2 separate regions of the Homo sapiens genome follow, and region 1 is linked to region 2. The links come from fine-mapping of genetic effects on gene expression. Tissue or cell type: blood mononuclear cells. Region 2 holds a variant in brackets; the other region holds the start of a gene. Each region is shown on its reference strand, or each on the opposite one.

Region 1 (4,394 bases), not on the chromosome of region 2:
TGTCAAACTTTAATAAGCACTAAATATGTGCTGCCTTTATAAAAATATTTTCGCCAAATCTTCAAATAAAATGGATACGTTATGTTTTCTGATACAGCTTAGTATCCTCTGGCCAGACACAACCTTTGGTGTTAGTTAGTTCCCAGTTTGAGAACCTGGGAACTAACTAGATGATGTCTATTTTCTTCCAGATCTAAAAAGTTGGTGATTCAGACTTGATATAAAATCTGTCTTAAGAATAAAGGTACCTTGTTTCACAAGAAATATTTTACACAAGTTGAATCATTTGTAATGCTCCAAAATAGCTTCTTATTTAAAAACTTAAATGGTGAATTATTTTGTAAATAAAAATATGTCTTAATTATCTAGTTTAATCAGATTTAATAAACTTTTGGGCACCTACTATGTGCCCAATAGTTTCAGGCTGTGTATAATTCCAAAGTAGAATAAGAATTTTGTCATCTTAGGCAGCATTGAGAACTTGATGTGGCAGGCACTATTCTACATGACTTATTCATTTAATTCTCACAACTCTGTGGTCACTAGTATTATTCTCATCTTATAAATGAAGAAATCGAAGCACAGAGATTTTATATACCAGTCCAAGGCTACTAAGCTTGTGATTGTGCTGAGATTCAAACCAGGCAGTCTGACTCTATCCACTATTCTTTTTTTTTTTTCCACCCCTTCCCTCTCCAATCCACTATTCTTGAAACACATAACAATTAGAAAATAGGATCTCATATAATAAAATACTAAATTATGCGGTACAGCACAATAGGAAACAGGACAAGGGAAAGAAAAAAAATGAGGCCGGGCATAATGGTTACACCTGTAATCCCTGCACTTTGGGAGGCTGAGGTGGGAGAATTGCTTGAGCCCAAGAGTTGGAGACCAGCCTGGCCAATATGAAGAAGCCCCGTCTCCACAGAAAATACAAAAATTAGCCGGGCGTGCTGGTGTGCACTTGTAATCCCAACTACTTGAGATGCTCAGGCTGGAGGATTGCTTCAGCCCAGGAGGTCAAGGTTTCAGTGAGCCAAGATCATGCCACTGTACTCCAGCCAGGGTGACAGAGTGAGATCCTGTCTTGAAAGAAAGAAAACAAAGAAAAAGAAAAGGAAAGGAAGGAAAGAAGAAAAAGAAAAAAATGTGAATTGGTAGGAAAAGTCAAAGAGAAAATAGAATTTCAGTTAGCTGGAATTTGCACAGATAAGGAAGAAAGAGTATTCAGGAATCCACAGTGTGAATACAGGAGGACTCTAGTGGGAAAAGGGAGTAGATGACAATGAAACTTGAATAGGCAAGGGGAGGCCAGACTGAAAGGTCTTTTATTCCAGGCCCCAAACCAATGAAAAAGATCAGAAGGTTCCTGAGCCGGAAGTAGGAAGGCCAAAACCTTAGCAGTATGTAGGACAAAATGAGAGGGAATAAAGCAGATTTTCTTGTATTATCTTTAGGAAGCAGGGAAGGCAGAGATTTTATTATTATTTTTTTTAACTGTTGCATTCCTCCTAGCATCTAGCAGAGTGCCTTACACAAAGTAGGGACTCATATATCTATGAGTGCCCGCATAAATGAAGAAACGAAGCGTACTTACAATGCAAATATTAACAGGATAAGAAATATTTAGCCAAGTACCACCCCTTCTGACACAGCAGAATACTTACAAGGGATCTGGGCCATTCCAGATCACCATCTTTCTTTCTGAAATGATATCCCAATCACTAGGGCTCTGTTCAGACAGTGACCTTGTAAAGCCCGAGGAGCACCCTAGAGAAGGGAACACAGGAGGAGCAGGAAAGGGAACACGGGAGGACCAACGCCCAGATCTCAGCGTGGTCGCCAGAATGACCCATATTAGTCATTTGGGGTTGCAGAAGAGGGGATGCAAGCCCATTCCCAGGACGGCCTCCACCCGGCGGGGCAATGAAGGGAAATGACTGACGTAGGGGGCTCCAGCGCAGGGGCCGAAGGAGATGCGACACCAGGGAGAGGGGCCCCGGGCACAGGCAGCAAGGAAAGAGGTCAGCGGAGTCTGAGAGAGAAACGATGAAGAGGGGAGACGGGCGCCGGGAGGGGGGCCGCCGCATACAGTTCCCCCGACACTCGCATCCTGGAAGGCACCAGCCCCTCACGACCAACCTGCCAGACGCTGTGAGGAATCCCCGGGTCAGAATGACAAGCCTCCGCGACAGTACCCACCGAGCCAAAGCTCCTGGAGAGCGCGCTGGAGAGCGCATGCGCCAGACCGGGCGCTTCCTCCACGTGGCCTGGAGCGTCGCCGAAACTACAGTTCCCAGAATGCCGCACGAGCCCGCCCCCAGCGGGAGCTGTGGGGCAGAGGCGCTGCTGTGGTTGGTCAGTCCAGTAAGAAGCCAGCAGGGCTGGTGCTGGGGCTTCTTCTCCTGAAGGGGCTGCAAGAGGGAAGGCTTAGCCATGTCGTCCTTGATCAGAAGGGTGATCAGCACCGCGAAAGCCCCAGGGGCCATTGGACCCTACAGGTAACGTGGCTGGTGGAAGCTGTGTCGGACCCAGGGCGTGCGGGTTCGGGGATTCGGGGTTGGGGCCACTCCGGGCCGGAGCCCCAGCTAACACGCAAGGAAATTGAGCCTGGAAAGTAAGCAACGCGCCCGAAGACCCACAGAGAGTTGGGAGCCACGATGGGACCAGGAACCTGCACTCCATGGGACTTTGCTCGTTCTGGGGCTGCCTCGCTGCGGAGCACAGCCTGCCAGAAAGCTCTCCCCAGTTAGAAGCCTTCAGACCCTGTGTTTTGTTTTGGGGGAGGGGGTCGTTTTTGTTTTCTTGGTAACAGCTTTATTGAGATATAATTCACGTACCGTAAGATTCACCCCCTTTAACATGTACAATTCAGTGGTTTTGACCATACTCACAGAGTTGTGCAGCCATCACCACTTTCTTCAGAACATTTTCATCACCCCAAAAATAAATCCCATCCCCATTAGCATTCACTCCCCATTCTCCTCTCCCCCGGCCCCTGACAATCTACTTGCATCTTCATGGATTTGCTTGTTGTGGACATTTCCTATAAATTGAATCATAAAACATGCAGTCCTTTATGACCAACTTCTTTCATTAGCTTCATACTTGGTCTGCCTCTCTCCCAACTGAAAAGAGCCCCATCAACAGCTCCCTCCTTTAAACCTACTGCTGTGAGAAAAGGCACTGAGATGTGGCAGAACAGGAATTATTATAGAAAACTTGGAAATAAATAAAATGCAGTAGAAGTGAGAGGGCAAGTGGGGTAGGGAGTAAAGGAGAAAAAAGACAAATTGATTTTAACTTGGGGTGGAAGAGGAAAAAGAAGATTTAGGAAGGTTCCTTGTGAGAGGTAGTCCTTTGGTTTTGAAGGTTGGTTTTGTCATTTATAGTAGTGTTGTAAAGTTTGATTTTTAAATTAATTTATTAAGGATTTCAACAGGAAGTCATTGAGTGAAGGGCATGGAGGTAGAAGTCAGGTAGAGGGAATGGCTTGAGTGAGGGCATGGAGGTAGAAGAATGCATGGTATAAAGATTTTGGGGAGAAAGTTTTCATAATTCAAGTGCTACTTCTGTCTTTTTTGTTTGTTTGTTTGCCAAATCTGTATATCACTTATAATTTACTTAACCTATTTCTTTGAGATGGCTCACTTCATTTTATTTAACAAGTTAATTGAAAAAGGAAACTTTACAACAGTACACTAAATAGAAAACAATTCAATAGAAAGTAATAGTAAAAAATAAACTCAATTAAAAAAAGGTATTATTAAATTTTAGCTAGATATTGCAGTTGGCTCAAAACCTGAGGCCTGCTCTCTCTTTGTTAAGAGTGATGTTTCTTTAGCCGGGTACTGTGGTTCACGCCTGTAATCCCAGCACTGTGGGAGGCCGAGGTAAGAGGATTGCTTGAGGTCAGGAGTTCAAGACCAGCCTGGGCAACATAGTGAGACCCCCATCTCTATTTAAAAAAAAAAAAAAGTTTAATTAAAAACTTTCAAGTGATGTTTTAATTTGTTTTCTAAAGATGATTTTTTTTCTCCTTAATGTAATCAAACGGGGTAGAGTCATCATTGCTAACATTTACTGATGCTTACTCAGCAGCATTGGGCACTATCCCTTTTTTTTTTTTTTTTTTTTTTTTTTTGGAGGCAGAGTCTCACTCTGTTGCCCAGGCTAGAGTGCAGTGGTGCAATCTCAGCTCACTGCAACCTCCACCCCACAGATTCAAGTGATTCTCATGTCTCAGCCTCCCAAGTAGCTGGGATTACAGGCAGGTGCCACCACACCCGGCTAATTTTTGTATTTTTAGTAGAGACAGGGTTTCACTGTGTTGGTCAGGCTGGTATTGAACTCCTGACCTAAAGCGATCCACCTACCTCGGCTTCCCAAAG
Region 2 (4,394 bases):
ATATTCAGTGAAAGTTTGTGGAGTTAAACTACACAGACAGTGATGGTTAGAGGCTTTGGTTAAGAGTATGATAGTTAAATTGATAGACCAGGAATAATGTTACAACTGTAACATGTTGGTCTAGTTCATCATTAATATTTGTTGAATGGCTTCAGTGTGCTTTGTCCTAAGTTCTTAGCAAAGTGACTGATGAGTTTCAGAAAAATGAAGACTCAGATATATAAAGTGGAAGATGGTACCTCTCATAGGTTTTCTGAGTAACTGAGAAAAAGCATTTGTTTATTTTGTTAGTATTTTATTTTTAAAGTTTAATTAAGTTAAATTTTATATTTTATTTTAATTACCTGTCACTGACTTTAAGTCCAGTATTTTGCTAGTATTTTTAAACCACTGTTTCTGCTCTTCTTTCCTACCCACATACCTTTTTGTTTTCCTCTCTCCTAATCTGTCTTTACTTGGTAGTACATTTGGCCTGGTAGATTCAGATGGACCTTGCTATGCAGTGATGGTGTACAATATAGTGCAGAGCTGGGGAGTGCTCATTGGAGACTCTGTAGCCATTCCTGAGCCCAACCTGCGGCTTCACCGAATTCAGCACAAAGGAAAGGTGAGCAATGGCTAGGATTCTCTTACAACTCGTAGGCTCTAAAAGTAGAACCAAGCTTATCTTTTTATAAAAGATATAGAAATAATTATATGTAAGTATGTGTGTAGGCTATGTGTATATATATTTGTGTGTATATGTTTTATTTATATATATATATGTATTTTTTTACTAAAAAGGTAAACTGGTAAGCAGAAAAATAAAAAAATGCAGTGAAATATTATCACTCAGGTATTACTGCCTTTTAACTGTTACTGTTAACAGTTTGGTGTATATACCTGAAGTCTTTTCTTTTCACAAATATATACACATATATCTATATTTTAAATCATGAGTGGGATATTATATGCAAATGTTTGTGAATGTTTCCTATGTTTTTACATATTTCACCACATTGAGTAGACACGGGGTGATGAAGATGGTAATGATAGTTAACATTTATTTAACACTTAATTGAGTGCTAGACACTGTGCTAAGAGTTTTTATTACCTGCCTTGCCCCATTCAATTCTTAAAAAAACCTTATGAATGTAGATATTTAACTACTGTTTAACCATTTAGATCAGAGGTTGGCAAAGCCCATTGACCAAATCTGGCTCACTGCTTGTGTTTATTAATAATGGTTTCTAGGCTGGGCATGGTGGCTCATGCGTAAAATCCCAGCACTTTGGAAGGCCAAGGTGGGAGGATCACTTGAGCCCAGGAGTTTAAGACCAGCCTGGGCTATATAGTGAGACCCCGTCTCTACAAAAAAATGTTAAAAAACTTAGCCAGGTATGGTAGCACATGCCTGTAGTCCCAGCTACTAAGGAGGCTGAAGTGAGAGAACCACTTTATCTCAGGAGTTTGAGGCTGCAGTAAGCCATTATTGTCCCATTGCACGCCAGCCCGGGTGATAGAGAAAGTCTGCCTCAAAAAAAAAAGAAAAACAAGAGTGTGGTTTCTGTGTTGTTAAGTGAAAAAAATGGACAGAAGCGTAATATTTTGTGATATGTGAAAATTACAGGAAATTCAGATTTCAGTGTCCACAAATAAAGCTTTATTGGAACACAGCCACACTCATTTGCTTACTATTGTCTGTGGCTGTTTTTGCACTATAGTGTCAGAGGTGACTTGTTCTGTAACAGAGACCATATGACCTACAAAGCCTAAAATATTTACTATCTGTCCCTTTGCAGAAATACTTTGATGACCTCCGATCTAAATTAGTACTTTTATAATAGAAAAAAAATTAGAAACACAGTGAGGATTTTTGTATCTTTGCTTGTATCTATGATTAGTTCCTTAAATGAATTTCTAATGTAGACTCCTGGGTCCAAAGGGTATGCAGAATTCTGAGGCTTTTGATACATATTGCCAAATAATTCTTTGGAAAATTGTACTAGTTAGTTGTCACTACCAACAGTGGATGTAAATAAGTGTTTCTCTGTAGTTTTTTTCTCAACTCTGGTTGGAAACCTTTGAAAAGTTATTTTCTAATTTTACATGGAAAATATAGCATGAATATTAATTTATATTTCTTGTATAAATTGCCATTTTTTGTGTCACTTGTTGATATTTCTGTGAAGACTTAAAAAAAATTGGTTTATGAGAACTTTTAAATTTACTTTACTTGGACTTAAAAGAGCCTGCCTCTCATTGCCATATTTTTTGGATGAAGACTATTTAATATGTTTTACAACTTAAAATAC[A/T]CTTAAACTGATACAGTGAGCTGATACCTTTTTTGTTATTAGGAAAACGGCTACATTCTGTTTCATGTTCTATTTCCTCCTCTTGATATAAAAGAGAAGTAACTTTAATTTGTATTTGGTGGATTAAATTAGGACCTTATAAACATTTGGACTGAGATTTTCTCAGGATTCCCACTGGCTCTGGCCGGCTGCTATGTGTATCTAGTTAATTATCAGGAAACACCGTGGGAAAAGGCAGATTCTATGAGAGTTGGTTGCATTCTTTTGTTAGGCAATGCCAGGAACCTGCCTTTTTTGGATCAAAGAGCTGTCTCATTCTTGTAGTGGCACTACATGACCTTACATGCTCCATGTTTTCCTTCTGAAGATTGAAAACTTTGGGAAATTTTCGTCCCCTGTGTTAGCTCAGTTTTGTCTGATGTGAGATGGAAGTAGAGGGGGTATACAACAGGGGAGGTGGTGCAGAAAGTTGCAAGTGGTGTATCCCCATGCTGGAGCTTTTTCCATCTTGGAATCTGTAGTGAACCTTTGTCTGTCTGTCTTTTCTAGGACTATTCCTTTTCCAGTGTTCGAGTGGAGACGCCCCTCCTGCTAGTGGTGAATGGGAAGCCTCAGGGATCCAGCAGCCAGGCTGTTGCCACAGTGGCATCGCGACCACAGTGTGAATGACCTTTGACTTGCATGCTCAACAGGGAGTGGAGGAGAGGAGACAAGGCTCTGGACAGCCGGTCCAGCCACATCCAGTGATTCAGCAGGGATGGGAGGAATGTTTTAAATGAAGACTTTCTCTTTCCCTGCCTGTATTACACTTCGTATCTCTTCTCTCTCCTCTGTCCTCATCATGTTCCAGCTCTCTACAGGGCCACATACTCTTCTGGCATATCTCTCCTGTCTCTTCCACTGCTCTCTATGTTTTAAGCAAAGAGCATGGAATTGGTAGAAGTCTTGGGATCTTGCCATGGGACAGAGTCCCCAAGGTTCCTGTTGTTGCCTCCTTCCTAAGCCTCATATGTATATATCAGTTCAGTATTTATTGCTAAAGGAGGGGGCTTAATTTTGTAATGGCTTTTATTTTTAGCAATTTTTATTTTTATTTTTGAACTTTAGGTCCTTCCTCTTCTTTGGGGCTGGAACAGAATTAAATTTGTTTGGAAAAAAAAAAAAACACCACGTAGTTTGGCCTGCTTTATTCTCCCTAGGCCTGTATTCTTTGTTTTAGGATCACTTCAATTTATTGGAGTAATACCCCCATTTTTTTCTTTATACAAAGCAGTTTATTTCTCTCCCAGTTAAAAGAATTCCGACAATAGACAGCCCCAGGCAGGAATGGCAACTCCACAAAGTTGCTAGAGACCAGCTTTCTTCCATTTTCCCATTCTGTCATTCCCTAGGGGTGGTCTTCACTATGGTCCAAGATGACAGAGCAATACTGTTCTAATAGTGTTACTAGGCTGAAGGACCAGAGAGAGTTAGATAAATCCTCAGTTTCTTTAGAGTCTAGTGACATGTTTTATAACAGTTTATCTTAATATCCTTGTGGTAAAATGGAGAAATGTGAGTGAGGATTAATAACCAATTGAATTGGCCTGGCACGGTGGCTCAGCCTGTAATCCCACCACTTTGGGAGTCCAAGGCGGGTGGATCACGAGGTCAGGAGTTCAAGATCAGCCTGGCCAAGATGGTGAAACTCCGTCTCTACTAAAAATACAAAAATTAGCTGGGCGTGGTGGCAGGCACCTGTAATCACAGCTACTGGGGAGGCTGAGGCAGAGAATTGCTTGAACCTGGGAAGTGGAGGTTGCAGTGAGCCGATATCATGCCACTGCACTCCAGCATGGGCGACAGAGCGAGACTCCGTCTCAAACAGCAACAACAACTGAATGGCTGTAATACATTAATGTATACAGATGAATTGAGAAGTCTTCTAGTGAAATGGCTCAGATCTTTGTTCTTGGTCCAGTCCTGTTCAGTTTTTGATCAGTGCCTTGAATATCATTGATGACTCATTAAATTTATAAAGAGTGCAGAGGCCTCCTCAGAGAATGGATGGTAGAAATGCATTGATGAGAGAAGTTTTATCTATCTATCTGTCTATCTATC

Evidence for each region. PIP is the estimated chance that this variant, and not a neighbour inherited with it, causes the effect.
Region 1: it holds the start of POP1, and the variant in region 2 is the best candidate, but not a certain one, in a credible set for the expression of POP1 in blood mononuclear cells (TOPMed, PIP 0.58).

The regions. Positions count from the first base shown.
Region 1 is chr8:98,115,142-98,119,535 of GRCh38, reverse strand. POP1 (POP1 ribonuclease P/MRP subunit) reads right to left here and starts at 2,243. Exons shown (of 16, transcript NM_001145860.2): 1 at 2,146-2,243. It overlaps RIDA (reactive intermediate imine deaminase A), which reads left to right and starts at 2,365. Exons shown (of 6, transcript NM_005836.3): 1 at 2,365-2,504. The coding sequence starts at 2,440. RefSeq lists enhancers at 1,971-2,140, 2,211-2,260.
Region 2 is chr14:20,288,196-20,292,589 of GRCh38, reverse strand. It overlaps TTC5 (tetratricopeptide repeat domain 5), which reads left to right. Exons shown (of 10, transcript NM_138376.3): 9 at 463-607; 10 at 2,844-4,394. The coding sequence ends at 2,963. Among named protein-coding and RNA genes, the nearest start is that of TTC5, 16 kb to the left of the region's middle. The variant A/T (reference allele first, on the strand shown) is at 2,295.